Linked DNA regions of Homo sapiens: all the other regions are linked to region 3. The links come from fine-mapping of genetic effects on gene expression. A gene starts in region 3. Each other region holds a variant in brackets. All regions are shown on one strand. Distances are between the middles of the regions. Region 1 overlaps LINC01756 (long intergenic non-protein coding RNA 1756). Region 2 overlaps EPB41 (erythrocyte membrane protein band 4.1). Region 3 holds the start of MECR (mitochondrial trans-2-enoyl-CoA reductase). Region 4 has its middle 7.3 kb from the start of TMEM200B.

Evidence for each region.
Region 1: its variant is fine-mapped to the expression of MECR in skeletal muscle (GTEx, PIP 0.95).
Region 2: its variant is fine-mapped to the expression of MECR in prefrontal cortex (GTEx, PIP 0.98).
Region 4: its variant is fine-mapped to the expression of MECR in lung (TOPMed, PIP above 0.99). The same link has a PIP of 0.9 or more in adrenal gland, aorta, blood mononuclear cells, esophagus mucosa, esophagus muscle and fibroblasts.

Annotation. Positions count from the first base shown.
Region 1 is chr1:29,339,353-29,347,455 of GRCh38, reverse strand. All of the region lies in intron 1 of LINC01756 (long intergenic non-protein coding RNA 1756), which reads left to right. Among named protein-coding and RNA genes, the nearest start is that of LINC01756, 6.7 kb to the left of the region's middle. The variant A/G (reference allele first, on the strand shown) is at 4,417.
Region 2 is chr1:28,958,951-28,967,053 of GRCh38, reverse strand. All of the region lies in intron 1 of EPB41 (erythrocyte membrane protein band 4.1), which reads right to left. Among named protein-coding and RNA genes, the nearest start is that of EPB41, 48 kb to the right of the region's middle. RefSeq lists enhancers at 501-1,030, 1,031-1,561. The variant T/C (reference allele first, on the strand shown) is at 3,593.
Region 3 is chr1:29,226,328-29,234,430 of GRCh38, reverse strand. It overlaps MECR (mitochondrial trans-2-enoyl-CoA reductase), which reads left to right and starts at 3,497. Exons shown (of 10, transcript NM_016011.5): 1 at 3,497-3,700. The coding sequence starts at 3,525. RefSeq lists enhancers at 3,486-3,595, 3,120-3,620, 3,621-4,121.
Region 4 is chr1:29,127,194-29,135,296 of GRCh38, reverse strand. No RefSeq gene overlaps it. Among named protein-coding and RNA genes, the nearest start is that of TMEM200B, 7.3 kb to the right of the region's middle. The variant C/A (reference allele first, on the strand shown) is at 4,331.

The DNA of each region.
Region 1 (8,103 bases), 110 kb before region 3:
TAAAACTGGATTAACCCATTTCCACAGATGAGCTCTGACCTTAAAGTTTCTATTCTGTCTTCACCTTCTGGAAGCTAGATGAAGGAGGGTGGCTCGGGGAGACCCCAGGAAGCTGAGTACTCCAAGGGCTAGGGAAGTAATAATCCTCAGGGCAAGGGAGGGCTGGATAGTAGAGGACCTAGAGGAACAAGATTAGGACAATTATCATGTGTAGCATTTACAGGTCCTAGGAAAAATATTTTCTTGAGTTTGGAGACTATCTCTGCTTCCTAAGAACCATTCAATGTTCTGGAAGTGAGCCCTGAAAATGGTCCCTTAGGAAAATAGTTGCTAGGTCCTCCTCTTTGTGTGTGTGGGTGTGTATCTGTGTGTGTAGTTGCTTCTGTATGCATGTGTATGGCTTACTATGCATGTAATAGACTCTGTGTGTGATAATGCATAGCTCATATTAAAACAACTGGCATCTCATAATTCAATTCCTCAGAAGGAAAAATCTAGGACAAATATTTAGCTGGTATTTTATCCCAATTCAAAAATGTGTACATCCTGAGTTGTCTCATCTCCACCCACAGCCCTGTAGTCACAACCACCCAGGTAGCATCTGCTAAGAAGAGAAAGCTCCAGTCTCCAAGTGCAGGGATGGGGGTGCCTATCTTGGTGGGGGCTGAGGGGAAAGCCTGCAAGGATTTCACAGTTCCAGGGAGATGGAAAGCCTGCAGCTCAGCACAGCCAACCTGGGCTTGCAGACATGGTCTCTAGCCAAACTTCTTGTCTGGCCCATCATGACTAAAGGGAAGGGGCCCGCACCCCAAGTGTCTATACCCATCCGTCTAGGGCTGCTCTGTTCCCCAGTCTTGCTGGGCCTTACAGGCCTGGGAGCATCCAGCCTTCAGACATGGTGTTAGCCAATTCAGAGCTTTGGCTGCAGACAGAGGTGGGTTGGAGTCCAAGCTCCACTACTCACCCATTGTGGGACTGAGGGCGTGTTGTTTCAGCTGCTGCACCTCATTTGCTGTGGACCCCAGTGCGTGCCCCAGTGTGGCTGCCCCACAGTCAGTGATCCCTCACTGTGGATCGCCCTCTCTGTCTCCCTAACAGGAGACATGACAGTCATTTGTTCATGGGTTCTCCATGTACATTTCTTCCTGAGTGATCTATTGACATGAAATTGGCCTTCAGCTTTTTTTTTTTTTTTTTTTTTTTGAGACAGAGTCTCGCTCTATCCCTCAGGCTGGAGTCCAATGGTGTGATCTCGGTTCACTGCAACCTCTGCTTCCCAGGTTCAAGTGATTCTCCTGCCTCAGCCTCCTGAGTAGCTGGAATTACAGGTGCCCACCACCACGCCTGGCTAATTTTTGTATTTTTAGTAGAGATGGGGTTTCACCATGTTGGCCAGGCTGGTCTTGAACTCCTGATCTCAGGTGATCCACCCACCTCGGCCTCCCAAAGTGCTGGGATTACAGGTGTGAGCCACTGCACCCGGCCTCAGCTTCTTATATATTTATCAGTTTAGCCACCGTTAATACATAAACTGTTGTCCTCACAGTAAAATTTGTTAACTGCATTCCTTTGCATGTGTGATTTGGGCTTCTGTGCCTCTTCAGACTTCTCTCAACTTGGACAAATCCATCTGCTCCTCTGCATGAACAAGCCGTCTTACCTTCCAGTGGGATGGGTTTTCCAGACTCTCCCAGAACACACACATTTGTAGATTTACAGCTCCTTTTCCCACTTCTGCTGCCACTCTAGCTACTGCATATTGAGGACTTGCTCCTGGCCAGGCATAGTACTGAATGCTTTGCCAAGATTATCTCTAAGAAATGGGCACCGTTCTTATCCCCATTTTACAGATGTGAAAACTGAAGTTTAGAACAGTTGAATGATTAGCCCAAAGTCCCCCAAATACTGAGCGGTGGAGCCAGCCTTTGATTTTAGATTTTTCTGATTCTAGAGCCCACAATTTCTGCTTGCATTTTGTACCATAGAATGGAAACAGTCCTCCTCCAAATGTTCCACTGTCTCCTTCTGTCTTTCTTTTCCTCCTCATCCTCTCCCACCTCCTCCTTTTCTTCTCACCCTCCTCTTCTTCCTCCCCATTTCTCTGTAAGCCTCTTCTTTCTCTCTTTCCCTTCCCCAGATATTTGCCCCCAACCCAGCACTGCCAAACCTTTGTAGCCAGGATGTTTAAGAGCTGAGATTCCATGTCACCTGCTGGGACAGAAAGGGGAATATGGCTTCAGAGACACCCCTACATTATGGGAGGAAGGATGGCCAAGGCCTCCAGACTTACAACCCACCCTGAGGCCCCTCCCCTAGCTCAGAGCTGTGTGCCTGGGAAAAGACACGTTGGTTTCTCCTTCACTTCTAGCAGCTCAAGGAAGGACCATCCCTGTCCTCAGCATCCCATCACTGCAGGTGTGTGGGTGACGATAACACTGTTCCCAGGTTTACTTTCACACAGTGTGCCAAGGAGTTTCTCCTGGACCTCACGTGATCCTCACATCATCCTGGGAAGTGGAGCATTATGCCCCTTGAATGGGGAAACTCAGGTCACACAGGAAGGTAGGGGCAGAACCAGCATCAGATCCCAGAGTCTCTCATTCCCAGATCAGCATCTGTAACAAAAGGGCAGGCCCAACCTGTGAGTTGGTCACGATGTCGGTTGTTTTAGTTTTTATTTCAGCACGAGTCTCACCTGCCAGCTCCTCAGAGCCGTGGGAGAGGGTGGGGCCAGAGCTGTCTGGATTCAGCTCAGGGCCCCAGGTCTGCCACTGGCTCAGTGTGTGTGACCTTGGGCAAGCGCTCCTTTGCCTCAGTTTGCCACAGGCCTGTTTTCTCATCTGTAAAATGGTCCTTTATGGGACCAGGGTGCTGAGTTTGACTCCCTGGCGATCTGTGCTAGGAGCATCCTGTTCCCCTGGGGCTTCGGGGCTGGACGTAGCCTGTACAGCCGCTTGGCTCCACAGCAGCTGTTTCACTTCCTCAGCGAGGATTGTAATTCCTCCTGCTGGAAACTGGGTCCATGCGTTTGGCTTGAATACGTTGATTTGTCAAAATTACCATTTCCTGGGGCTGCTCACATCAGAAGCAGCAGGTGGTTCTTCCGTGTGCTTCAGAAAGCACCCCAGAGTCCAGCTGGGACAAATCCATCCCTCCAAAGCGACATCTGCTGGAAGGCAGCACTGAATTATGTCGCATTATAACAGCATTTCACTGGGTTCCTGTGACCTTTATTTAGCCAGAGCCGGAATCTCCTACCGAGGGGCCCGCTCCCCTGTCTGGGGACTTTTCCTGGCCTGCACCAGGCAGACTGCATCATAGCAGGTAGGACGGGGGTCAGGGTGAGGGGTTCTGGGCCAGGCAGGGGTGGGCAGAGATAGGCCCCCTTGGCGGAGAGGAGAAGGCGGGGTTGAGAGGACCACATCCATGGGACAGTTCTCTCCGCGGGGCTGGTCACCCACCATGGGTGGCCCTGGAGACTCCTATCCCCTTCATCCATTCCTTTTCTCACTCACTCAGTAAACATTTCTTGGCCACTGATGTGCCAGGGTGACATGCCAGGTTAAGGGGACACAGAGGTAGGGAAGAGCTTGCTTTTATCTCAGGGACTCACAGTCTGGAACAAGAGACAGAAACTCTGTGTCAAGAAACAATAACAGGCATCAGGGAACAGGAGGAGGGAGCAGTTAACTCCCTCCAGGGTTAGGGGGACAGGGGTGTGTCTCAGGGTGGCTGCCCCAAAGGGTGCTCTTTTTGAAGCACATGGATGAACCACCTGTTGCTTCCAATGTGAGCAACCCCAGGAAATGGTCATTTCAACAGCTTGCCCTGAGTCAAGGGCCCCAGTGCTGATAGTTTATCTGAGAGGGGAACCCTCTCAGATAAAGTGTGGAAATGGAACGACTAAGTGGGGAAAAGAGAAAAGTCAGTGAAGCATGAACTAAGCACTAGGCAGTGGGTTACAGCGACGGCAGCTTCGGGGCTCAGTCCTGCTGGGGAGCCTCTGAGGCCTGCGTGGAAGATGCCCCCAGAGCCCACTCTCATGACTCAAGGGGTAGTGGGCACTGTTCACCACCTCTCGAGGCATTAACTCCTCCTGTCCCCTGTACTCCTAGCTGACACCTGCCACACAGACAAGCAAGTTCTCCAGGTGCCAGAGAGAGAAAGAGATGCAGGCATTTGAGGTGGGAAGCTGTCAGCATGCTCAGAACTGTCTGTAACTGCAGAACTCAGAGTGCCAAGGGGAGGGGGACACCAACCACATCTGTTACAGCATCTTAGGAAAGCTGACATCTGAGCTGGGTTTGAAGGTGAGTAGGAGGTTTGCAGCTGGAGCAAGCAGGGTGAGTGGCTCATCTGGGCAGTACAAACAGTATGTGGATGGGAGGGGAAGAAATGAAAGTGGCTCGAGGGGCC[A/G]GAAGATTTCAAGAAAGGAATTTATTTTAAAATTAAGTATGGGGGAGATTGAGCAGGCTTTATGCAGGGAAGTCAGGGGTGCTGACAAATGCCGGGGGAAGTGGGGACAGAGAGAGAGAACGCTATAGGGACAATGTCCCGCAAAGGCAGAAAGGAATCAGTCCGGAAGGTGGAAACGGACTGGCCCTCAACCAGAGGAGAGAGTCTGTCCTGAGATAGTTAAGAGTCCTCTTCCCAAGCGGGCTGAGAACAGGTTCAGGAGAGAAGGGAGTATTTGAGAAAGTCAGGTCACTACTGGGAGTGAAAAAGCTGATGGTGGGACTAGGGGAGAACTTAAGAAAGGTGGAGGATCTGAATAGTCCTTGAAGGGAAGGGCGGTTGGAGCAGATGACAGGGAGGTGGCAGAAACGATGGGTGATGCTGGAGCCCGCTGACGTTGGCAATCACCCCTTGGCGATGTTGCCAGTACTCACTAAGTGCAGTTTTCTCAGCAGCTTCTCAGCAGCTCAGAACAGGAGTTGAGAAAGCAGATGGCTGCCTTGGCAAGTGGCTGGGGATTGGTAAGGCAGGGAGGCGAGAGGAGAATGTCAGCCACCTGCAGGCACAGAATTCCTCGGGGAAGGTTTCACTGGCTTTCCATTGCCTTCCTACCCTTGGACCTGGGAGAAGAATGGGGAAGGGTTGAAAAGACCAGGGCTAGGGGTTTCAGTGCCTAGGCTCTCATCCAAGCTCTGCTGCTCACTTTCTGTGTGACCCTGGGCAAGCCACCTCCCCTTGTAAGACCCCTCTTTCTATACCTATTAATTCAGGACTTCTCATCCTCAGCACTACTGACATTGCAGGCCAGATAATTTCTTGTTGAGGGGCCAAGGCGGGGGCTGTCCCATGTATTGTAGGATATTTAGCAGCATCGCTGGCCTCTACCCACTAGATGTCAGTAGCAAAACCACATTGTGATAACCAAATGGTCCCTGGGAAGCAAAATTGCCCCCAGTTAAGAAGCACTGTATTAATCAGAATAACGATAATACAACTGGAATAATAATGTAAGTGGAATAATAATGACAAGATCTATCCAGCCAAGCCGTAAGAAGAAGGGTTGTCATGAGGATCACAGAACATCATGGAAATTGAGGTGAGGAGAAAGCCTTTGCAGGTCATTAGAGCAGCTTGGATGGAAGTAGGCATCTGACACAACTTCTCCTCACTTTCCCCACCTGTAAAGGACATAGGTTAGAAGCTGAGCTGGGCCTAGAACCCAGGCATCCTGATTCCCAGCTCTAGGCTTTGGCCTTTCTGCAAGGCATGCTGGGAAGATGCCACATCCTCATCTTCACCATGTTCACACAGAAACTGGGACTTTCCAAGACGGATCTGAAGGAGGCAGAGGTGAAGAGAAAGGCCAAGAGGAGAGCAAGGGGGAGGCCAAATCTTCATCTCAAATCTGATTAAGATGGAGACAGCAAGGAGGCCAGATGCCAGGGTGGAGAGTATGTGAATAGAGACCATTCAGAAGACAGAGACCACACCAGTAACCTAAACATGGAAAATGTAATGTAAAGAACTGTTCATGAGGCTGGGCGCGGTGGCTCACACCTGTAATCCCAGCACTTTGGGAGGCCGAGGTGGGTGGATCACCTGAGGTCAGGAGCTCAAGACCAGCCTGACCAATATGGTGAAACCCCATCTCTACTAAAAATACCAAACTTAGCTGGGCATGGTGGTGTGTGCCTGTGGTCCCAGCTACTGGGGAGGCTGAGACAGGAGAATTGCTTGAACCTGAGAGGCAGAGGTTACAGTAAGCCAAGATCACGCCACTGCACTCCAGCCTGGGCAACAGAGAGAGACTCCATCTCAAAAAACAAAACAAAACAAAAAAAAAAAAAACAAAGAAATGCCATCCATCTCTATAGCCTTTCAATACCCCTCCACTGCCCTCTATTGACAGAGATTAACATTGCACCAGCCTGCAAACAAATGTTTATAGGGTCCAGCTCCAGTAACACAAAGCAGGACACAGAAGGGTGGACTTGAGAAACAATTGGTGGAACCATCACAGTCCTTGCCTTTGACGAATCAGCTTCCATATATATCTACTACACACTTTTAAACTTCCCTTCACAACAAGGCAACTCTGTGTTTCCACCTAAGGAGATGCAGTTATCCCTTGTACACATAAGGAAGTTCCCACCCTTGCCTCAAAATAAGGAGACACGTAGTTCCAACATCATTCACCCCTTGCTGGCTATATGAACAACTCCTCAAAATCAGCACAGTCACACTGAATATTCTGTTTCCTAAAGGCCATATGGTAAAGTTAACCTCCAATAACTGGTATATAAATAACAATGGGGAGAACACATGAACACAAAGAAGGGAACAACAGACACCCAGGCCTGCTTGAGGGTGGAGGCTGGGAGGAGGGTAAGGATCAAAAAACTACCTATTGGGTACCATGCTTATTACCTGGGTGACAAAATAATCTGTATACCAAATCCCTGCGACGCATAATTTACCCATGTAACAAACCTGCACATGTAACCCCTGAACCTGAAATAATAGTTGGAAAGAAAAATAGGCCAGGCACAGTGTCTCACACCTGTAATCCCAGCACTTTGGGAGGCCAAGGCGGGTGGATCACGAGGTCAGGAGATCGAGACCATCCTGGCTAACACAGTGAAACCCCGTCTCTACTAAAAATACAAAAAATTAGCCCGGCGTGGTGGCACACTCCTGTAGTCCCAGCTACTTGGGAGGCTGAGGCAGGAGAATCACTTGAACCCAGGAGGCGGAGGTTGCAGTGAGCCTAGATCGCGCCACTGCACTCCAGCCTGGGTGACAGAGCAAGACTCTGTCTCAAAAAAAAAAAAAAAGAAAAAGAATAATACCAACGGGAAGAAGGAGAAGGAAACAATTAACATAGTCATAAATATATACACATAACAATAAATGAGAAAATATGCAAAGCTACTCTAGTCCTCATTTCTGTAACTGACCACAAGGCCATAATTTATATCTATGATTTCCTTCTTCCACTACCCATTCCGAATCTTCCCTACCCTCAACCAGAACCTCAGCTAGTTGGGGTTTTTTTTTTACCAGGAAGAGAAAGTCAAAACTTCATTCTTGAATGATAGGAGCCCTCAATTATCCTGCCTTTTTTGGATTGATGAAGTTCTCCATTAACCTGTACAGTTGGGCTTGGAAGTACTAAGAGGCACACCCGCAGAATCCCCTTAGTTCCAGACATAGCCCTCCTGTCCCCATCGTGTAGAAGCAATCCAATTTTTCCGTGGAAACCAGGATCAATCATTCCATCCAAAAGAGTAACCCTTTTATCGGCCTGTTTGATAGGTGACGTAAGAACCCCAAATGGCTAGAGGCAGTCTCATCCTTCCATTCATTGGAACCAACGTTGTGTCCTCTAGGATTCCCCCCATCCTTGCCTTAGGAACAAAGATATCCAAGCCAGCAGAGTTCAAATTTGCAAAGACAAGAAGCAAACATTCTCCAAGTGGGTGATTAAGAATAATAATGAGAGGAGCCTGTACCAGTTGCCATTTATTGCTTCTGAGTTCCAAATCCACCCCTCATGGCCTGCTTGTGAAACTAGAACGTTTTCTCTTGCAAGTTGGCATGGTGTTGATTTTGTCAATAGATGGCACTGGCAGGATGTTGGACACTCTG
Region 2 (8,103 bases), 270 kb after region 3:
GAGTGAGACTCCGTCTCAAAAAAAAAAAAAAAAAAAAAAAGGTTCTCATATGAATCTATCTTTATAACCTGCTTCTGAACTGAAAACTGAAGTTAGTTATCAGTAAAGGAGGTAGCATGATCCTACTAAAAGTACAGTTAGATCATCCACTGACCAGAAACCCTCCAAAGACATTTCCTGCCATTCAGAATAAAGGGCAAAGTCCTTGCAATTGCCTGTCCTGTTCCAGCCACCTGGGTCTCCTCGTTGTTTATTAAACATGGTAAGCATGCTATTTGCCAGGACCTTAGGATTTGTGGTTTCTTCTGCCTGGAAGACTACCTACCTCCCAGATGCCACGAGGCCTGCTTCCTTTGGGTTTTTACTCAAATACCACCTCCAGTGAGGCTTTCCTTGGTCACCCTACCTAAAATTGGAGGCCCAGCTGCACTTCATTCTCCTGCTTTATTTTTCTCTGTAGCACTTAACTACTCTTTAATGACATACTATATGGTTTTTACTTGATTTGGTTTATTGTTTGTCTACCCCCACTAGAATGTAAACTCCATTGGAGCAAAGGATTGTGCTTGTTTTGTTCATTGTTTCATCCCTGTTGCCCAGAATGTTGCACCAAAAAATATGAGTTGAACAAATAAATGAACAAAAGAAAGACTGATTTTGATAAGTCCAAAGGCCAGAAACTACTTTCCTCATAATAAAAGATGTGAACGAGTCATCTGGTGAAGGGTAAAGAAATCAACAGAATCTAGATATACCCAAGAAGGAATACAAAATGCTTACTTACATATCCAAGGTACTAAGATACTTCAGATGTAGATATGCTAACTGTAACTTAATTACAAAATAATTTTTTCTTTTTTTTTTTTTGAGACGGAGTTTCACTCTTGTTGCCCAGGCTGGAATGCAAAGGCGCGATCTCAGCTCATCTCAGCAACCTCCGGCTCCCAAGTTCAAGTGATTCTCCTGCCTCAGCCTCCCAAGTAGCTGGAATTACAGGCTCCCGCCACCATGCCTGGCTAATTTTTGTATTTTTAGTAGAGATGAGGTTTCGTCATGTTGGCCAGGCTGGTTTCTAACTCCTGACCTCAGGTGATCCACCCGTCTCAGCCTCCCACAGTGCTGGGGTTACAGGCATGAGCCACCACGCCCGGCTTACAAAATAATAATTTGCTAAATTATTGTGTGCCAGCCAAAAGGAATTAATAGTCATCCCATGTGGCAGTACAAAACTTTGAAAACGCTAAAGTTTATTCCAAGTATTTTCCTTTCTAGTGTAGTCTCTAACAAAGGTAACACTGAAAGGAGATCAGAGTGAAGTGCATCACTACAAATGGTAATGAGTTTGAAATCCCTAAGGGCATTCAGTTCTGGGTCAGCTCCCAGGAATCTGAGTCCAGAGAGAGGCAGTCCTACCCATTCCCACCTAACCTCCAGGTCATTCTTCATTTATATGTGCTCTGAAAAAAAAATGAGGTTGTGTGTGTTTCAATGGTGTTGAAAAGATCATGAGCCAAACAAGAGACTCAAAAACCCTGTTACCTCATTCTGTGTCTATACCTGATTCATTCATCTTCTTTCTCTTTGATACAGTCTCCAGACTTACACCTTATTCTCTTAAGTAATAATACCCTATACTAAACCCCAACAGGAAATCAGTTTCAAAAAAGTTCTAAAAAAAAAATTATAAAATGCTTTCCTGGGTTACTAGGTTCTATGAAAACATTAAAGCAATAAAATAAAATTCTCATTGGAGGCCTATGAGAATTACAAGATCAAAAAAAGGTTTTTTCCCCATAATTAAACAACTAAATATTTTTCTTTTTTCTCCTTTGAGGAAGATGATAATTAAAGTTTTACCAAAACTACAAGCAATATTTAAAAACCTATTCACTAATTCAAAAAACCCCATGCAATAATTAAATAATTACTGAATTCATCATAAATGTTCACTGAACATATAATATTTTAGGCACCAAGATAAGAGCCAAGGTTGCAAAAAAATAAGATGTGGCTTCTACCCTCAAAGAGTACACAGTCTATTTTAAAAATCAGGCAAAAGCAAGCAATTATATAGTAATATATGCAGAGAATAAGCAGAGCAGAGTCAGAGAAAAGGCCTTTGATATACAATCTGAGCTAAGCTTTAAAGGATAAGTAGGACTAAGTTAGGTGACGAAAGGAGGAGAGGGCATGATCAACTGGATAAGCATCTAGAAAAAGCATGTGCACCCGAATGGCAAGCAGCACAAAGTTCACTATAGCTGGAGTATAAAATATAGGATGACAGAAAACAATGGAGGTTGAGACTGGGTTGAGACCAGGCAAGGGTAGATTAGGGAAAGCCTGCTTTTGCAATGGTCAAGAATTTATACCTTATTCTCTGTAAAACAGGAAGCCATTAGAAAATTTTATTTATTTATTTATTTTATTTATTTATTTATTTATTTGAGACAGAGTCTCACTCTCACTCTGTTGCCCAGGCTGGAGTGCAGTGGCACGATCTTGGCTCACTGCAACCTCCGCCTCCTGGGTTCAAGTGATTCTCCTGCCTCAGCCTCCCAAGTAGCTGGAACTACAAGCGTGCACCACCACACCCAGCTAATTTTTTTTTTTTAGACAGAGTCTCACTCTATTGACAGGCTGGAGTGCAGTGGCATGATCTCAGCTCACTGCAACCTCCGCCTCCCAGGCTCAAGCAATTCTCCTGCCTCAGCCTCCTGAGTAGCTGGGACTACAGGCGCACCACCACATCCAGCTAATTTTTGTATTTTTAGTAGAGACGGGATTTCACCATGTTGGACAGGCCACAGTGGTCTCAAATTCCTGACCTAAAGTGATCGCCCGCCTCAACCTCCCAAAGTGCTGGGATTACAGGCATAAGCCACCCCACCAAGCCTGCCATTAGACGATGTTAAATATGGAAGTACCATAGTAAAATATGTGTTAATGTGTGTGTGAGAGAGAACGGATACAGGAAATAGAAATAGACTAATAGGAAGCTCTCCTAACAAGTTTGATGAAAGATCATGAGAGCCTGAATCAAGGTTTGTTGAGATGGAAGAAAAGGAGAAGGATTCAAGAAGTACTGAAGAAAGACAGTATGACAGAGTGGATTATAGCACCAGCTTCAGAGTCAGAAAAAAGCACTAACTGAAGGATGACTGTTCTGTTTTTAGAAAAGTTGACGCGTCTATGGGATATCCAAAATAGTTTAAATGTGCTAAAAGTCATTCTGAGTCTTCAAAGACAATGTTGAGTGTAAACTCACGGTGTAACCCTGGGTATATAAGCTGGTCAAACCAGGGTTATAATGAAGCATCACAAAATCTTAAACCTCAATGAGACTGATAAATCATCTGATCAAGTGGTTCTTTTTGTTGCCATGAACGATCTGAGAATCTAATGAAAGCCACAGACCCTTTCCTCAGAAATGTTCCAAAATAAAATTTTGCAACAATAGGTTAAGAATCTCCTGACCCATTCTCCTCCAGAGGGACTATGAGATAAAATTAGGCTGAGTTACTGCTCATCAGAGGCAGAGCCAAAACCCAAACCTAAGCTTCTTAACTCTCAATTCCATGTTATTTCTCCA[T/C]TGTTACCAGAAACTTGAAATGATTCTTTCAGATTTACATTTTATTTAGTTGGTCATACAAGGCTAAAATCACACACAGACACACACACACACACACACACACACACACACACACACGATTCTGATTTTACTGAATGTAGCTTGTAGCCCTCATCAGGCTTTCCAGATCCAATGGCATTTCTCAAAAGTCAGTTGTTTCCCATTCATGCTAACAAAATTGGCACTCAAAATAAATAGAAGCATTGATGGTGGATTATTTTCATTTGTTTGTTTTTGTTATTGCTTTTTATATGTATATATAAAAAAACAAACTTGTTTTATTTTAGAAAAACTGTTCATCCTAATGGGAGCTGGTTTCGTTAAGAGTAATGAATGTAATTACAATTTAGTTCAATTAAGACTACTGTCACTCACCAAGCACAAGGCACTAAGAATGCAAAGATATCTAAAAATCCCATGGTCATCCATTAAAAGAAAAAATATAAATGTCTAAAATGTTACACAAAGGAATAGAGAATATCTTTATTTTTATTATTATTACAAACACTCATTTAATTTTACCTTATTAAAAAAACCATAAAAATCTGTGGTGAGAGAGAACCCCACACCCAACTACTGACAGTTCAACACATACTGCGAGCCATAAATGCTCCAGCAGCTACATAAACAAAAAGTTATGGGGACCTAAACTGAGGGGCAATGGGGTTTGGATTCTGACAGACCTGAGTTCTAACCCAGTCAAATCCAAAGACAGAAAGTTCTAACCTAGTCAAATCCAGAGACAGAAAGTTCTAACCTAGTCAAATCCAGAGACAGAAAGTTCTAACCTAGTCAAATCCAGAGACAGAAAGTAGATTAGAGTTGCAGGGGCTGGGGAAAACCAGAATGGGGAATGACTGCTAATGGGTACAGAGTTTCTTGCTGGGGTGACAAAAATGTGCTGGAATAAGATAGTAGTGATAGTGGCACAACTTTTGAATATACTAAAAACCCCAAGTTACACATTTTAGTGTACAGTGTAGAATTTATGGTATATGAATTATATAGGTTGATGCAAAAGTAACTGCGGTTTTTGCCATTAAAAGTAATAGCAATTATGGCCGGGAGCGGTGGCTCACGTCTGTAATAATCCCAGCATTTTGGGAGGCTGAGGCAGGCGGATCACCTGAGGTCAAGAGTTCAAGATCAGCCTGGCCAACGTGGTGAAACCCCGTCTCTACTAAAAGTACAAAAATTAGCCGGGCATGATGGCGGGCCCCTGTAATCCCAGCTACTCAGGGGCCTGAGGCAGGAGAATCGCTTGAACCTGGGAGGCGGAGGTTGTAGTGAGCCAAGATAGCGCCACTGCACTCCAGCCTGGGCAACAAGGGCGAGACTCCATCTCAAAAAAAAAAAGTAAAAGCAATTACTTTTGCACCACCCTAGTATCTCCATTAAAAAAAAAATCCAATATCAACTAGAGAAATCAATTTAGGAATAAGAGCAAAAACCAACTTAAAATTTAACGGCAAATACACTAAAATTACTATTGCCAAAAAAGCTATAAACCCATGATGGGTTTCTATATAGAGGAGGAACCAGTTTGCTCTCCTCACAAAAGAAGAGAAAATTGATGGGAGTTTCCTCTAAAGATTTAAACTGTACTGTAAAGATTTATTCCACTCCTGGATCTGGAAAGGAAGAATCAAACTTGAGTGATGATAGTAATTTGCATTGGCATAAAGTTGAATTTTTCATTTTTATTTTTGTGAAGGTATGAGAATCATAGTGTTAATATATGTATTCCTGAGAAATGTATTACATATTCCCACACACATGGAAGGACATGACTTGGTCATCAGTGTTACCTCATTGTTCAAGTAGAGAGAAGAGATATTATCCCCATGTTATCAAAATAGATACAATTTCAGATGAGTAACATCACCTATTCAATGTCCTACAGTGGCAGGACTGGGACTATAAACCGGGTGTTCAGATTCCCAGCCTGGTTTACTTTCATTACATCAATGATCTTAAGCTTTAGTGTGCTACTTTATCCTTTATTCAACAACTCTATCACTCAACCACTTATTAATTCTTATTAAAGTACAACGTAATAAACCAGGACACTCTCGGAGAGCACTTAACACCTTATTCATGTAAGGTGATTTTTCTTAAAACTGCAAATGCCATAGGAATTAAAAAGCACTATAAAACACATATTTATTATATAGGAAAGCCCCTTTTGGCCCTCATTCAGAGTCCCTTTACCTTTGTTTTTTGCCTAATTCTAACAAGTTTGTTTGTCAAATGTAACAGATGAATTTAAAGTAGAAGGGGTTATGATTCTTCTAGATACATACAATGAGTAAAGAAACAGCCTAAAAGAAAGAAAGAGACACATCAAAATCCAAAGTGATAGCCATCTTTTTTTTTTTTTTTTTTTTTGAGACAGGGTTTTGCTCTTGTTGCCCAGGCTGGAGTGCAGTGGCACTATCTCGGCTCACTGCAACCTCCGCCTCCAGAGTTCAAGTGATTTTCCTGCCTCAGGCTCCCGAGTAGCTGGGAGTACAGGTGTCTGCCACCATGCCTGGCTAATTTTTTGTATTTTTAGTAGAGATGGAGTTTCACCATGTTGGCCAGGCTGGTCTTGAACTCCTCACCTCAGGTGATCCACCCGCCTCGGCCTCCCAAAGTGTTAGGATTACAGGCGTGAGCCATTGCGCCTGGCCTGGCCTTCTTTTTTTAAATTTTTTTGCGACAGGATCTCTGTCGCCCAGGCTGGAGTGCGGTGGCACAATCTCAGCTCACTTCAGCGTCAACCTCTCAGGCTCAAATGATCCTCCTACCACAGCCTCTACAGGAGCAAATCACCACACTAAGCTGATTTTTTTTTTAAGTTTTTTTTTTTTTTTTTTTGTAGAGACGAGGTCTCACTACATTGCCCGACTGGTCTCAAACTCCTGCGCTCAAGTGATCCTCCCACCTCAGCCTCCCAAAGTGCTGGGATTACAGGCATGAGCCACTATGCCTGGCCAGTTATAGCAAACTTGACCATTTATTGTAGGGGTAATAAATCCTATATAGCTCAAGGTTCTTATTCATAATAATGCAGTCTCCCTAATAAAAGGATGACTCAATTCCAAATGCTTTATTCAAGAAAGCAAGGAAGGACTGGATATAGTGACTCACACCTGTAATCCCAACACTTTGGGAGGCCAAGGTGGGTGGATCACTTGAGCCCAGGAGTTCAAGACCAGCCTGGGTAACATGATGAGACGCCCCACCTCTACCAAAAATAAAAATTTAAAAAATTAGCCAGGTGTAGTGGCATGCACCTGTAGTCTCCGCTTCTGGGAGGCTGAGGCAGGAAGACTAACTACTTGAGCCAGGAGGTCGAGGCTACAGTGGGCAGTGATTGAGTCACGGCACTCCAGCCTGGGAAACAGAGTGAGATCCTGTCTCAAAAAAAAAAAAAAAAGAAAAGAAAAAAAAAGAAAGGGCCTCAAGAAGGGGCTCACGCCTGTAATCCCAGCACTTTGGGAGGGAGGTCAAGGCAGGCAGATCACTTGAGGCCAAGAGTTCAAAAACCAGCTTGGCAAACGTGGTGAAAACCATGTCTCCACTAAAAATACAAAAAAAAAAGAAAAGAAAACTAAAGAAAAAAGAGAGCAAGGAAGAACATAGCTCCCATTTTCCCAAATTCAAAACCTTAAATTCTTCTATTCCCCTTTTTGTTAAAAATTAGTTAAACCCAATCACTTGCCAAATCCTGTCAAGTCTACCTCTACCTCTGCATTTAACTATATGTTTCTATTTTTACTGTTTCTGCTCTAATTCACTCGACTATAAATAACCTATTTCCAGTCCCTCCTGCTATAAATGTTTTCTCTTCCAAACAAAGATTTAATCCTATCACTCTTTTATTCATCAGTTAACAAATATTTATTGAAAGATCAAACTTTTGGCTGGGTGCGGTGACTCATGCCTGTAATCCCAGTATTTTAGGAGGCCGAGGCGGGTGGACTACTTGAGGTCAGAAGTTTGAGACCAGCCTAGCCAACATGGCGAAAACCCATCTCTACTAAAAATAGAAAAATTAGCCAGGCGTAGTGGCACAGGCCCGTAATCCCAGCTACTTTGGAGGCTGAGGCAGGAGAATCGCTTGAACGCAGGAGGCAGAGGTTGTAGTGAGCCAATATTGCACCATTGCACTCCAGCCTGGCAACAGAGCGAGACTCCGTCTCAAAAAAAAAAAAAAAAAAAAAAAGATCAAACTTTTAAAGGCTCCGTAGTAGCTACGGTATAAAATCCAAACTCCTTTCCCATAGCACCCCAGCTTGGCTGTGATCTGCCCTCACTAGTCTCTTCTCCCACCAGCCCCACCTAGAACTACTTGCTGCTTCCTAAAACAGCCTGCACTTCCCTGCATCTGCCTTCTTTATAATACCCCAAGCCTGCATCTCCACCTGCTGAAATTCTAACCCTCCTTCAAAGCCCTGCCCACACGCCATGTTTTCCATGAATTTTAT
Region 3 (8,103 bases):
ACTGCTGAAGTAGGGAAAGCCATGGGCAGATGGGTCTGACCACTGGGCAGTGACACTGAACAAAGCGTAGGAGTTCAAGGTATATGTAGGCCCTCCCTGTGCCCTGCCCCTCCTAGCTGGCTTCATGCTGAGATGGACACACCTTGAAGCTGCCCTGGGGCTGGAGGAGGTATCGCTGGGTTGAGAGTTCCTGGGCTCTTGGTCTCCTCTCTTGTGAGAGCTGATGAGCTCCACACTGAGTTAGGAAAGGGACCAAAAGACACAGCAGGCAAGAATTAGACACAGATAATTAAATAGGGAGAGGGAGGCAGAAGCAAGAAGAAACCAAGGGGAAACCTTAGGGAAGAAACTAAGATACAGAGACGCTGGAGCAGAGAGGAGCCAGAGAGGCCCACCCAGAAAAGGAAACTCAAGGAGAGAAAACCAGTGAACAGAAGAAACAACCAAGGGTGCTGTTTGCAGAGGGCTCTTGAGAGAGCCTCAAAATAGGAGTTTTACCAGTGATCCCATTTTACGGGTGTGGAAACTGAGGTTCAGAGAGCATATGACACTTGCCTAAGGTGACACAGCTAGTAAATAGACGGCGGGCCCTAGATTTGAACCCAGATCTGACTGATTCCACATCCCTTTGCCCTTTGTGCAGGGGAAGATGGCAGAGACTATAATGGAGGGAGAAAGAGAACACAAGCAACAGGTAGACAGATGAGAAGAGGACTTTCTGCTTTACTTTTAAAAGACCACAAACTTCAGCCGGGCACAGTGGTTCACACCTGTAATCCCAGCATTTTGGGAGGCAGAGGCGAGGTCAGGAGTTTGAGACCAGCCTGACTAACATGGTGAAACCCTGTCTCTACTAAAAAAAAAAAAAATACAAAAATTAGCCAGACGTAGTTGCGGGCACCTGTAATCCCAGCTACTCAGGAGGCTGAGGCAGGAGAATTGCTTGAACCTGGGAGGCGGAGGTTGCAGTGAGCCAAGATCGCGCCATTGCACTCCAGCCTGGGCAACGAGCAAAACTCTGTCTCAAAAAAAAAAAAAAAAAAAAAAAAAGACCACAGACTTCTATAATCCTTGAGAGAAGAAGGAAGAAGGAAATTCCTGGCCTGGAGTGACCAGCCCAAATCTAGGGAAAAGGAGATGGCACCACAGACCGTTCTAGGCCATGAGGAAATTCAATTACCTGCAACTCATGGAATATTTATGACACCTACCCTGTGCCAGGCTCATATCGGGTGCTGGTGTTATGGAGATAAACCAAACATGGCTCCAGTCTTGCCTGGAGGGGAATAAATAAGAGACGATGTACTAAAGGCCATAACACAGCTCCAGGGAAAACACAAAGGCAGCAGCAGATGACCTAGGGAGTTTTGAAACATCAAAGAAATGACATCTGAACCTGGAGTTTCCGAGGCAGGGAACAGCATTTCAGGCAGAAGGAGTGGCCTGAATAAAGGCACAAGACACACTGGGGAAGACGGGTATCAGATGCAGCTGGATCACAGGCTATGCACGGTCCAACAGGAGAAGATGAAGCTGGAAATGCAGTGTGGGAGTCAGAGTGCAAAGAATCTTGAATGCAAGTCCAGGAAATTGGACTTGAACCCCTCAGTCAGTAGTTCTCAAACTATGCCCCTGCAAGAACCCAGATGGCCTAGACTAAAAGTGAGGGCTATTGGGATGCACAGGAGGCTAAAGTCCAGCCCCAAGGAGGAGGACTTGCTGGATGATTCTTCAGGCTTCCTGACTGGGCTCCCCAGAAATTCAGAGGAGCCAATTTGGTGAAGAAGAGAATGTCGACATCTCAATGTCACCTAGGGAGTCTTACAACAGAAGGTTACGTTGTACTTCCCAGTTCAAGTAAGCCTATGTGTCACTGGGGAAAAGGGTAAGCAGGACTGGTCATCGTGTGTGTGCTGGCACATAAATGTGGGGCCAAGCCTTTCCCCCACCATGGGACACCAACTTTCTCTAATAATAAAAACAAGTACAGACATTTAGTGAGCACATACTATAAGCCAGACCCTAGTCTGAGGGTTTTATGTGTGATATTTCTCATTTAATCACAATAACCCCCGATAATATTTATCAAATGCTTCCATGTGCCAAGCATTGTACTAAATGCTTCAAGTGGATAATATCTCACTTGACCCTCACAACAATCTTGAAACAGATAACTAGTATTCCTTCCATTTTAAGAGTAAGAAAGTGAAGACACAGAGAGGCCTGGTGACTTGTCCGAAATCAAATGGCTGGAAAATGGCAGAGCTAGGACATAAAGCCAGGTTTGTCCAAATCTAGCTCACAGTACTTTGCTGTGCTCTCTTCCTCAGAGGAAAGGCTTGGAGATGGCAAGCTTCAAGTCAATAAAATCCAGGAAAGGAACTCTTCCTTATCCTTCAAAGCCCTGGCTCAGTATCTTAAAACCTGTTTCCTGGGACACCTGCATCAGAATATTCTTGGGAGCTTGTAAGGATGTAGATTCCTGGAACCCCCATCCGCAAGATTCTAATTCAGTAGGTCTAAGATGGGACCTCGGATTATTTTTATGCACACAGAAGATTTTGAATCACAGGGCTGGCTCTAACAGCACCTCCTCCAAGAGCCCCCACCCCATCCCACCCCATCCCAGAGCACTTCTCTTCAGACTACAGCATTGCACTCTGGCACGAGCCACAGCTCGATCTGGGGTTTTAGTAATGTTCATGTCTTCCCTACACCAAAAATCAGACTAGATCCTTCATAGGGCTACACCTTTTTACAGGCATTTCCAGTGTTCCACTTAATCCCTTTCTACACTGTGAGCATTTTGAGAGAGGACCCTTCTCCTTGTGATTCCTGTCTTACATCTGAACAGAGTTTTTTACAATGCGTTCTCCCACCCACAATAGCATTCCTCTATTATTTCATCCAATCCTCACAACAATCCGGAAGGAGGCATATTATCCCCATTGTACCGATGAGAAAAATTCAGAGTTTCACCTGCCCAAGGTGGCCAAGCTAGGAAGTGGCAGGGCTAGGATTTGAACCTAAGTTTTCTAACTCCAAGCCCCATACTCCTGCCTCCACAGCAGCTTTCGTGTACTCTCCTCAGTGTAGGGAAGTAAGCTTTGCCTCCCTATGCCGTTACATGGTAGTGGTGATTAAATGAGATAATACCTTAAAGAGCCTGGCTCGGTGAGCACTCAATATATTATGTGAAGGGTAAACTGAGGCCAGGGAGAGTAAATATTTCCTCCAAATCAAACACCAAACTGCAGGCTGTAGACACGACTTTGGACTAGCCCCAGACTCTCCTTGTTGAGACAACAGCTTTGGCGGCCTCGCAAGCTCCGCACCCCCGGATCCCTCCGGGGCCCACACGCAGTCTAGCCAGGCGCCACCACTTGGGCAGCGAAGGAAGGAAACGCCCTTCAAAGGGACCAAGGGGGAGTGGTCACCCGGCGGGGCAGGGGCGGGGCGCAGGCGCGCGGTCGCTGGAAGATGACGTAGCCGGGGCGTCAGGCTCTGTGTTGGTTGGAGCGAGCATGTGGGTCTGCAGTACCCTGTGGCGGGTGCGAACCCCCGCCCGGCAGTGGCGGGGGCTGCTCCCAGCTTCTGGCTGTCACGGACCTGCCGCCTCCTCCTACTCCGCATCCGCCGAGCCTGCCCGGGTCCGGGCGCTTGTCTATGGGCACCACGGGGATCCAGCCAAGGTCGTCGAGTAAGAGACGGCGCCGAAGCCGGGGAAGGGGACTGGGGTTTCTGGAAGGCTTTAACACGAGCTGCGGACTGGGAAGAGAGGGACAGGGTCCGAGGAAGGGGGCAGAGAATAGCAAACCGAAGCCGAAGCCCAGGGCGTTTTTGGTAGGTCAGAAAGACCGTACTTGAAGGTAGCTGAAGACCCGAGAGGCAATTATCAGGGTATTAATGGCTGATGTTTATTGATCGAATATTGTGTCAGGCAATCCCTTGTTTAAATGGATGCTCTCATTTAATTGTCACAACAATGTTTTGGGGTAGTTATTGATTTATCCCCATTTTGCAGATGAAAACTGAGGCAGAAGAGGTAAAATCACTCGTCCAAGGTCACACAGCCAGTAAGTGACAGGGTCAGAATTCCAACCTATGTCTGACTGACCTGCGTGAGTTCTTACTATTATTATTATTATTTGGAAGAAGTTTTCAGAATACTTTTACATCCATTTGGATCTTCATGTGTCAGTAAAGAGTAGGTCATAGATCATTGTTTCCAGAGGGCAAGGGACTTGCCCAGAGTGATACCGCTAATAAGTGATTGGAACAGGAGACTGGAATCCATGGCTTCTGATTCCAAACTCATGTTTCTCTCCACTGCACCGTATATGCATCTTGGCTTGGTTAAAAAGAGCTGCTTTGGTGCCATACAGACCCAAGTATCTATATTTGGTCAAATACAGGCTCAACGTCTTAGTAGCTGTTTGGTCTTAGAGAAGTCATTCAACTTCTCGTTACTTTTATGACTTTGTCCTCCTCCTAAAATTCTGTTGGATCTTAATTCATGCTTTTTGCACGTGGTTGATAAAAATAGTATGTCAGTTGCCAACCATTGTAAATCTGCACATAAATAGCCATTCAGAAGGGCTATTGGGGCCACTGAAGTGGAGCTAAAGCAAAAGCACAGGTCTGGGAATCAAAATACTTGGGGTCAAATCCTTGTCCTAGCTTTGCATTTGGCAAGTTACTGAGGTTCTCTGAGCCTCGGTTTCATCATCTTAAAAAATGGAGACAGTACAGACAAAGTTCATAGTGGTAATCACCTAAGATCTATGTAGTGCTCTCCACCAAAAAACACCTGCATACTCTTGTGCAGTACCTTCTTTTTAACTCTTTGATTCCCAGCAAATAGTTTGATTATTTTCCAAAGGATGGGCAAATGTGGTATTACTTTAATGGTTAAAATTCAGGCTAGAGCTGGGCACGGTGGCTCACGCCTGTAATCCCAGCATTAGGGAGACTGAGGCGGGTGGATCACCTGAGGTCACGAGTTCTAGACCAGCCTGGCCAACGTGGCGAAACCCCATCTCTACTAAAAATACAAAAAAATTAGCCGGGCTTGGTGGTGGGCACCTGTAATCCCTGCTACTCAGGAGGCTGAGGCAGGAGAACCGCTTGAACCCAGGAGGCGGAGGTTGCAGTGAGTCGAGATTGCGCCACTGCACTCCAGCCTGGGCAACAGAGCGAGACTCTGTCTCAAAAAAAAAAAAAAATCAAGCTAGATGTTTTGACAGGTGGTGAGGATAAGCCTCAGATAAATTCAAGGTCATCCAATCAGCCTAGCCACATCCCGCATTATAGAAACGAAAAGAATGTCAAGAAGACACATCAGTCAGTAAACTCCAAATTGTATGTTGATCGTAGGTAATAAAGCATTGTGTCAGGGAAGACATCTCACTAAGGACTGCGTTGTAAGGAACTGGTACAGCTCTGATGAACACTCCTCCATTTCCAGGAATGTACCCCAAATGAGAACCATGTAGTGTCTCTCCCACGGACTTGTAGTTTGTGTCTGCAGCAGGACCTGCCACAAAACAGGTGCTCCTAAAATGTTAGTTCAATCTAAATCTAAATTTCCAAAAAAAGTGAACCTTTTATTAAGTTCTGCTGTGGTGATGAGGAAGGCCTGGGAAAGTTCAGCTGAATGCAGTTGCCTCCTAATTGATTCCCTCCTCTTGGAGAGCCAGAGAAGCTGGAACAGACCGGTCTGTTTGCAGATGCCACTTAGGAAAAAAAAAAGCTTCTATTATGTCCTTCTGTGGAACTTCAGTAATTTCCCTCTAGTTCAAAACATGATACTTCCAACCGGGCGCGATGGCTCATGCCTGTAATCCCTGCACTTTGGGAGGCTAACATGGGCAGATCATGGCGAAACCCTGTCTCTACTAAAAATACAAAAATTAGCTGGGCATGGGGGTGCAAGCCTGTAGTTCCAGCTACTCGGGAGGCTGAGGCAGGAGAATTGCCTGAACTGGGAGGCAGAGGTTGCAGTGAGCCGAGATCGCGCCATTGAACTTTAGCCTGGGTAACAGAGCAAGACTTCCTCTCAAAAAAAAAAAAAAAAAGATACTTCCACAAAGCATTATATTCAACTTTGGCTTCACAGCACAGTCACCATTTGTAGTGCTTTTATTTTTTGTATTTGCCCACATAAAATATCAGACAGCTTTTATTTTATATATATATTTATTTATTTATTTATTTATTTTGAGATGAGATCATGCCATGTTGCCCAGGCTGGTCTTGAACTCCTGGGCTCAAGGGATCCTCCCACCTCAGCCTCCTGAGTAGCAGGGATTGCAGGTGTGTACCACCACACCCAGCTTGACCTGTAGTGCTTTTAGAAACTACCGTATGTATTCCTAGGCCCCACTCCTGAGGTACTTAGTAGGTCTAGGATGGCTTGGAGCTTCTGTTTTTTTCAAAGCTCTCCAGGTGACTCTGCTGCCCAGGCCAGGCTTGAGAACCACTGCCTTGTGGATACAGATTGTCAGACAAGCAGTAATTCTCTCCGTGCTCCAGAAGGGCAACTTTACTTTCTGACCCAGATTCAGGCGGCTTTACTTGTTCTCGTATGGACTGAAGCCAGAGACTGGGATTCTCTTTGTAGTCATGTCTTACAAGGTTTAGGGTAACCACACTGTCACAGAAAGAATCAGGTGTCCTTTACACATCCTGGTAACTGGCTGTCTGGGTCAGGTTACACCAGGTAGGGGTCATGGGACTACCTAGAGTCTGAACAGAGCATTGTCAGAACTAGTGTGGTTTGTGATGCTTGCGCTGTGGGCCACACCTCTGCAAGCAGGAGGGAAGGAATGAGGAACAGCCTTCTCAGGTCTGAATCCTCAAAAGGAGGCCTCCAGGTTTCTCCTGTTCTCACGTCCCTGTTTTCATTCCTGTTGGCCTCCAAACATTGCAGCTGTTCTCTCCTAAGCCATTTTCCCCTGTTGCTTAGTTTCTTTCCCTTTCTTCCAAAATGGGATTCCCTAAATAAGTATTTGGGCCTTTTTTATTTAAAAGATTAAACTGTAGATCTAAGTAAAGTAAGACTGTGCAGAAGAATGACAAACATTTGAGAAATTTCAGAGTTCTCCATAGCCACTGTCCCTTGTGCAGAGTTCTAGATTCCCTATCAGATAGTTCCCAGAAACCCAGGGGCCAGGCATGGTGGCTCATGCCTGTAATCCCAGCACTTTGGGAGGCCGAGGCGGGCGGATCACCAGAGGTCAGGTGCTCGAGACCAGCCTGGCCACATGTCGAAACCCTGTCTCTACTAAAAATACAAAAATTAGTCGGGCACAGTGGTGCATGCCTGTAATCCTAGCTACTCGGGAGACCGAGGCAGGAGAATCGCTTGAACCCAGGAGGCAGAGGTTGCAGTGAGCTGAGATTGCACCACACCACTGCACTCCAGCCTCAGCGACAGAGTGAGGCTGTGTCTCAAAAAAAAAAAAAAAAAAAAAAAAGATAGTTCCCAGAAACGCTTAGTTCTTCTCTTGCCTTCTTTTTTTCCTGAAAGTCCGCTCAGAACTTTGCCATTCTCTGGATCTTCTGGTGAAAACAGCTTTCATTTATTGTATACCTGCTGTATAGCAAGCATTGGACTAAATGCTCCCTGTATATTACGGGGTTTTAAAATCAAAACACTCCAGTTTGGTTATTATTACTTCCACTTTACAGATAAGGAAATTGAAGCTCAAGTAGATTGAAAGGCACTTATCCGAGATCTTACAGCTAGGATGCCCCTTCTTTATTAAAAGTCCTTGATATAGACATAGGCCTGAGGAAACAACAGCAGTCACCTCAAATGATTTCTTCAAATAAACTTTTTTAAATATTTTAAATAAAAAATATAGATGGGGTTTCACCATGTTGCCCAAGATGATCTCAAACACCTCAGCTCAAGCGATCCTTCTGCCTCAACCTCCCAAAGTCTCAAATGATTTTTGAGAATGAGATGGACTATAAAATTGGGAAAAAGGTCAGAAGAGAAGGTGAAATTGTAGGTCATTCAGGTAACCCCAAATTTCTACGCTGTAGAAAGGGCAGCCCCAATCCTGGGAAAGTTTAGAAATACCATTCTCTGTCTCC
Region 4 (8,103 bases), 99 kb after region 3:
TGCCTTTCCTGCCCCTTTCAGGTTCATCCACACCAGCTCCTCCACTGCCACTGCCTCCTGAGGTCCCCAGCTCCCTCCTCAGAGCCTTGACACTGGAGATGGAGGTATCACCTTGGGGACCCCGACTGCAGCCTGCCACCTCCTTGGTCGCCTCCTCTGTAAAATGACCCGCCAAGCTACACTGATGCACAGGCCACCGTGCATGTGGGGGCAGCTGGCTGCTTTCTGAGCCTCCCAGGAAGGGGCTGGTAAATGAGGGGGCTCCCTGGGCCTCTTGTCCCCCTTTGCAATGGCAAAGCAGTGATCACAAATGTCCAAAAACATGTGACCTGATAAAGAAGCAAACTTCTAAAGGCCTGGGCTGGACACTCACCTAAGAAGCAAGGCCAGGCAAGCTCCTGCCGTGGAGGGTGCAGCCCACCGTGGCAGCTCGTCTAGGGCCAGATTGGGCTTAGACTCAGGAAGTCCTGGGTTGGAGCCCGGCTCTAACATTTCCCCTCGGGTTAAGTCCTTTTGTATGTCGGAGCCTCCGTGTCCTGTCCGTGGGGCAGGGACAAAGGCAGTGCTGCCCTCACTGGGCGTTAGAGGAGTACCCGGGACCTTGTTGGAGCCGCACCTAGCAGGGTAAATTTGACTCGATTCCCACGCCACGCTCCGATCGGGCTTGGCGCCATGCGGTTTAGCCACAGCGTTTTGTGGGTCCCCACCCCGACCGCTCCCAGGGGTTTTCTTTCTGTCGCAGGCCACGGACTGTTTGCAAGAGGGCGCATCCTTGAATCCTGAGGCCCAGAGGGGAACACGTGAGCGCCCAGGGTCCCCGAGTGTGGAGGCAGCGGAGAGCCGGGCGGGGTGCCTGCTTCCCTTCGCTGAACGCGGCGGGGCGCGGCCTCACGGCCAGGGGTTGGTCCGGGCCTCGGGAGGAGCCCATTCGCCGCCTCCCGCCTCCGCCGCCTGTCCTTGGGCCTCGCTGCCTCCCCCGGCCCTGGAGACCGGGGTCGCCCCCTCCACCTGGGGCCTGCCCTGCAGGATTCTCACCGGGAATCCCAGAGGTCCAGCCTCTGCTTTCCTTCCCAGCGACGCGCAGCTCAGTATCTCACCAGCAGTGCGATTTGTCACCAAATGGAAGAGCCGTGTCCCCGTGGTGTCTGTGGCAAAGACTCCGAGTTGTCTCCCACATGGCCACGCACCCTACTTGAGAAAAAGGGCGTGCTGGATGAGCGTTCTGGGTGTGCATTCGGTGCCTTGCAATGGTCTGCAGACTCGGGAGAGGGAACAGCAAGTGTCTTCAACCACCAAACAGGGAGAGTGCCACACCCGAGGGAGGGCAGAGCAACAGGAAGGAGAGGGCCAGGGCCTCCCTGCCCACTCGGGACAGCTACTGCTCCAGCTGCAAGCGAAGACTAACTCCCCTCTCTCTTGCTCTAGCAAGAACCCGCTCTCAAACTACTCTGGCAGCATGAGCCAGGCCCATTGTTCTGTAACTGGCAATCATCCCATTTCCAACTATTTAACAAGAGCTTACTACGGCCTCGAGTACCAGGCTGTTGGCAGTGGGTTACACTGGAGTAACAAGTCACTCCAATCACAGTGTTGCACGGTGCACGCAGTTTCCCTCCCTCCCTCCCTCCCTTCTTCCTCCTCTTCTCTTTCTTCTTTCTTTCCCTTTTTCTTTCTCCTTCCTTTTTTCCTTCCTTCCTTCCTTCCTTTCTTCTTTCCTTCTCCTCTCCTTTCTCTTTCTTTTTTTTTTCTTTTTCTTTTTTTTTTTTTGAGACAGAGTCTTGCTCTGTCACCCAGGCTGGAGTGCAGTGGCACAATCTCGGCTCACTGCAACCTCCGCCTCCTGGGTTCAAGCGATTCTTCTGCCTCAGCCTCCCGAGTAGCTGGGACTACAGGCACCCGCCACCACGCCCGGCTAATTTTTTGTATTTTAGTAGAGACGGGGTTTCACCATGTTGCCCAGGCTGGTCTCGAACTCCTGACCTCGTGATCCAACCGCCTCGGCCTCCCAAAGTGCTGGGATTACAGGCATAAGCCACTGCGCCCGGCCTTTCTCTTTCTTTCTTCCTTCCTTCCTTTTCTTTCTTTTCTTCTTTCTTTCTCCTTCCTTTCTTCCTTCCCTTCCTCCCTCCCTCCTTTCTTTCTTTACTTTTTTTTTTCTTTTCTTTCTTTTCTTTTTCTTTTCTTTTTTTTTTTTTTTTTTTGAGACGGAGTCCCTCTGTTGCCCAGGCTGGAGTGCACTGGCACGATCTTGGCTTACTGCAACCTCTGCTTTCCGGTTCTGGCAATTCTCCTGCCTCAGCCTCCCGAGTAGCTGGCACTACAGGCATGCGCCATCATGCCCGGCTAATTTTTTTTTTAATTTTTAGTAGAGACAGGGTTTCACCATGTTGGCCAGGCTAGTCTCAAACTCCTGACCTCAGGTGATCCACCCGCCTTGGCCTCTCGAAGTGTTGGGATTACAGCCATGAGCCACTGGGCCCGGCCCCTCCCTCCCTCCCTCCCTCCCTTTCTTTCTTTTTCTTTCATTTTCTTTCTTTATGTTTCAGAGACAGGGCTTTGCTATGTTGCCCACGCTGGTCTTGAACGTGTGGCCTCAAACTATCTACCCGCCTCAGCCTTCCAAAGTGCTGGGAGTACAGGTGTGAGCCACCATGCCCAGCCAAACACACATTTCTTGGTGTCAGCCAGGGCTGGCTGTTGCCCTGCTCCCCCTCTAAGGCACACCTTCCAACACAACAGTGCTTTTTTCTTAATTTACAGTGGCAGCGGTGGTGCGGGGGAGGGCATATATGTAATTTCCTCAATGGAGGCTTCTCCTACCCCATGTGCCTTGCTGTGACCTGTGACCTATAAGCCCTCCCAAAGGGAGAAGTGAGAAGCAGATCTTCATAGGACCCTCCAGCCTCACTCTTCTGCTGGACACACGGGTGGCAGGTGAGTGCCCACAGTCCCACTTCCAGCCAGCAGCCCTACTTCAAGCCCTTGGATCACCCAACTCCCAAGGTCCAGCCTGCGCACTCCCTAGGCTGCCAGTCACTTGCAGGGACCCCCATCACCACCTCCCAGGCTTCTGAGAGAATCCACGTGTCCAGCCTGTCCAGGCTTCCTGACCCTGTTCTCTCCCTCCCTCTAGTCCTTAGCTGATTGGACTGGAGATAGATGTCTGATCCAGGCTGAGTCCACTGGAACATTCAATAATTTGAAAAAGCTGGGAGCGGTGGCTCACATCTGTAATTCCAACACTCTGGGAGACTGAGGTGGGAGGATCGCTGGAGGCCAGGAGTTTGGGCAACATGGTGAGATCCTGTCTCTAGAAAAAAATACAAAAGTTAGCTGGGTGTGGTGGTACATGGCTGAGGTCTTAGCTACTCTGACTGATGTCAGAGAATCGCTTGAGCCCAGGAGGTTGAGGCAGCAGTGAGCTGTGATTGCACCACTGCACTCCAGCCTGGGTGACAGAGCAAGACCCTGTCTTAAAAAAAAAAAAAAAGAATTTGAAAAAGGCCACAGATATGAGGTAGAACATCAGAGCTCAGTTAATAGAAGCAGAAATAATAACAATAACAATAAAGGCAGCTAAGGTTTATCCGGCACCTCTGGCAGGGCTCAGCGATCTCTGACGACCCTCTGAGATGGGTAATTGGCAGGTAGTCTTGAGAGGTGACAGCATGCTGGCAGTCCTCACAGCCCTCGCTCGCTCTGGGCGCCTCCTCTGCCTGGGCTCCCACTTTGGCGGCACTTGAGGAGCCCTTCAGCCCGCCGCTGCACTGTGGGAGCCCCTTTCTGGGCTGGCCAAGGCCGGAGCCGGCTCCCTCAGCTTGCGGGGAGGTGTGGAGGGAGAGGCGCGGGCGGGAACCCGGGCTGCGCGCGGTGCTTGCCGGCCAGCGCGAGTTCCGGGTGGGCGTGAGCTCGGCAGGCCCCGCTGGCTCTGGGCAGTGAGGGGCTTAGCACCTGGGCCAGCAGCTGCTGTGCTCAATTTCTCGCCGGGCCTTAGCTGCCTTCCCTCCGGGCAGGGCTCGGGACCTGCAGCCCGCCATGCCTGAGCATCCCCCCTCCCTCTGTGGGCTCCTGTGCGGCCCTAGCCTCCCCGACGAGCGCCGCCCCCTGCTCCACGGCGCCCAGTCCCATTGACCACCCAAGGGCTGAGGAGTGCGGGCACAGGGCACGGGACTGGCAGGCAGCTCAACCTGTGGCCCCGGTGTGGGATCCACTGGGTGAAGCCAGCTGGGCTCCTGAGTCTGGTGGGGACTTGGAGAACCTTTATGTCTAGCTAAGGGATTGTAAATACACCAATCGGCACTCTGTATCTAGCTCAAGGTTTGTAAACACA[C/A]CAATCAGCACCCTGTGTCTAGCTCAGGGTTTGTGAATGCACCAATGGACACTCTGTATCTAGCTACTCTAGTGGGAACTTGGAGAACCTTTGTGTCCACACTCTGCATCTAGCTAATCTGGTGGGGACGTGGAGAACCTTTGTGTCTAGCTCAGGGATTGTAAACGCACCAATCAGCGCCCTGTCAAAACAGACTGCTGGGCACTCTGTAAAATGGACCAATCAGCAGGATGTGGGTGGGGCCAGATAAGAGGATAAAAGCAGGCTGCCTGAGCCAGCAGTGGCAATCCTCTGGGGTCTCCATAGCAATCCTGTGGGGTCTCCATACATATTGTGGAAAATTTGTTCTTTTGCTCTTTGCAGTAAATCTTGCTGCTGCTCACTCTTTGGGTCCACACTGCCTTTATGAGCTGTAACACTCACGGGGAAGGTCTGCAGCTTCACTCCTAAAGCCAGCGAGACCACCAACCCACCAGGAGGAGCGAACAACTCTAGACGCGCCGCCTTAAGAGCTGTAACACTCACCACGAAGGTTTGCAGCTTCACTCCTGAGCCGGGAAGACCACGAACCCCACCAGAAGGAAGAAACTCCGAACACATCCGAACATCAGAAGGAAAAAACTCCGGACACGCCGCCTTTAAGAACTGTAACACTCACCACGAGGGTCCACGGCTTCATTCTTGAAGTCAGTGAGACCAAGAACCCACCAATTCCGGACACAGTTTGAGGCAGAAACAGGCCAGAGAAGTGAAGCGTCTGCCTGAGGTTATGGGGGCATGCCTCCTGAAGCAGTCAGCTGTGGCTTCTTCCACTTTTGGTGGATGAGTCTTCACCCCAACCCCTGAGGCATCTGGATAGGGCCCAGGGCTGCTTCCTTTCTGGTCCCTAACAGCCAGCCCAGAGGATGTGGCTGAAGAGATGCAATCAGTAGCCTCAGTCTCACACTCTACAGGGGGGAGAAGCGAGCACCAGCTGAAGGCCAGAAAAGCCATCCCTCAACTGTGCTGTGTTTGCTGCTACCAGAGCTGAGGGGTTTGATCCTAATAGCCCTCCATAGAGGAGGAAACAGAGGCATAAAGAAGTAAACTGGCATCCGGGCGTGGTGGCTTATGCCTGTAATTCCAGCACTTTGGGAGGCCGAGGAGGGGAGATCCCAGCACTTCGGGAGGCTGAGGCAGGAGAATTGCTCAAACCTGGGAGGAGGAGGTTTCAGTGAGCCAAGACAGTGCCATCGCACTCCAGTATAGGCAACAAGAGCAAAACTCCATCTCAAAAACAAACAAGTAGTCTGGACCAGGTGCGGTGGCTCACACCTGTAATCCCAGCACTTTGGGAGGCCAAGGTGGGTGGATCACATGAGGTCAGGAGATCGAGACTAGCCTGGCCAACATGGTGAAACCCTGTCTCTGCTAAAAATGCAAAAATTACCTGGGCGTGGTGGCACATGCCTGTAATTCCAGCTACTCGGGAGGCTGAGGTAGGAGAATGCTTGAAATCAGGAGGTGGAGGTTGCAGTGAGCCGAGATCACGCCATTGCACTCCAGCCTGGGCAACGAGTGAAATTCCATCTCAAAACAACAACAACAAAAACTACACCAGGTGTGGTGGCTCACACCTGTAATCCCAGCATTTTGGGAGGCTGAGGTGGGTGGATCACCTGAGGTCAGGAGTTCGAGACCAGCCTGACCAACACGGTGAAACCCTGTCTCTACTAAAAATACAGAAATAGCTGGGCATGGTGGCCCATGCCTGTAATCCCAGCTACTCAGGAGGCTGTGACGGGAATCGCTTGAACCTGAGAGGCGGAGGTTGCAGTGAGCTGAGATCGTGAGCGCAGTGAGCTGCACTCCAGCCTGGGTAACAGAGCGAGACTCCATTTCAAAAAAACCCAAAACGAAACAACAACCCCACCACACCTGCTTCTGACCTTGGCTCTGCCACTGACCAGCTGTGTGACCACAGACAGGGCCGGACCTGGTGAAGCTGTTTCCACATGTGTGATACAGGTGAGTGCTGTGCCAGGCTCACAGGAGTGTCTTGTACTCTGAAGTGATGGGTACAAAGGTCCTGGTAGCCAGGGCAGCTCGGTGAGATGGTGCTGTTCCTACTGTTATCCCTCCACCAAAGGACTCAGGCAGGAGGCTGGCATCACCCTGTCCCACAGGAGGGTCTCATCTCCTTGACCTTCCCAGCTTTACCCAGGCTCTGCCTCTGCGTCTTCTCTGGGCTACAGAAAGCCATGGAAATGGGGAGCTCATTCTCCCTCAGGCTTCTCCAGGAGCCCAGATTCACCCAAGTCAGAGGTTTTATGCAGTGGGAGATGGATTTGGGGTTCACATTTCAGGACCATTGCCCTCTAAGATCCTGAGTCCCAAATAGGACTTTGTGACCATGGGGCTTGAAGCCCAACTCCACCATTCCTTAGCTGGGTCACCCTGGGCAAGTCATTGCCCCTCTCTGGGTATTGATTCTGCCCTTATATAATGGGGCATTGAGACCGGGATTCTGGATTCTACTTTCCAATCATCTCTCCCTGAATTGCAAGCCAGTCCTACCTGCAAAGGGCTCATGACAGAGGCAGGGGTGGCAAGAAGGGCTGGGACTTGCCCAGCACCCAGCGGACGACTCAGCAGCAACAGCAAAACCAGGCTATGCTCTCCCCTTTGAAGCTGGGCTCCAAATTCTTAGTTGAGGCTGTGGTGTCTCTGGATAGGAGCCGTAAGGCACAGTGTCCAGAGACCACCTTAGCAGCAGGCTGTGTCCTCTGAGCCCTTCCAGCCACCCTGAGACAACGACTGGAGCCCAGGCAGCCCAGATGGGATGTTCCTAAAGTGGGGATGAGAGAAAATGAATTTGCAGGCCCCACTGTTCCATGGCCCGGAGAGGGACGGACATGCAGGAGGCAACAGCCATTCCTTCTGCGAGGTGGCTTCTGGAGAGGACACGGAGCCTCAGGTTGGCAGGGGCTTCGGGGTCACTGAATCAGGTTTCCTGTTTCCACAGAGAAGGTTAGGGGAGAAATGTTCATCCCCTGGTCCCCAGGGGACATCTCATCCAGGCCTTCCAAGTTCAGAAGTGGAGTCCAGGTCACACAGATGCCAGGGCAGATTCAGGAAGGGTCCTGGCCTCATGGGAGCAATCAGTGTCCCAATATTGAGGCCACTAGCAGCCCACACATCTGCACATTCACAGGGCCTAACCAAGCAGTCCTGGGGAGGGTCCCTCCAAAGAGAAGTGGGCACTGATCAGCCTGGCTGTGCCTGTGGGCAGGTCGCTTTGCCTCTTCCAAACCACATATGTGAACTGGGCATAGCACTGACCTCCTGGAGCTCTCAAGAGAATTAAACAGGACATCTGGGAAAGGGGGCCCTTCCCTCCTCTGCCACCCCAGTGACCCCAGGGAAGGTTTCTACCCACCCCAAACACTACCCTCTGTACCTGAAACGTCATGATCAGAAGAGGGAGAGGTGTTTGCTGGAACCCACTTTGTGCCAGGCACTCAACATGTGAACCCTTTCTTAAATTTTTTTTTTTTTTTTGAGACCGAGTCTCACTTTGTCACCCAGGCTGGAGTGCAGTGGTGCCATCTCGGCTCACTGCAACCTCCGCCTCCTGGGTTCAAGCCTATATACCTCTTCTCTAAATCCTCTCAGGGTCCATAGAATCCTTTCCTGGACACTAAGTCTCCTTTGAAGAACTCATTTGTTTCCTTATTTGGTCATCTTTCTATTATACAAGCTTTTTTTTTTTTTTTCCTTTTTAGACAGAGTCC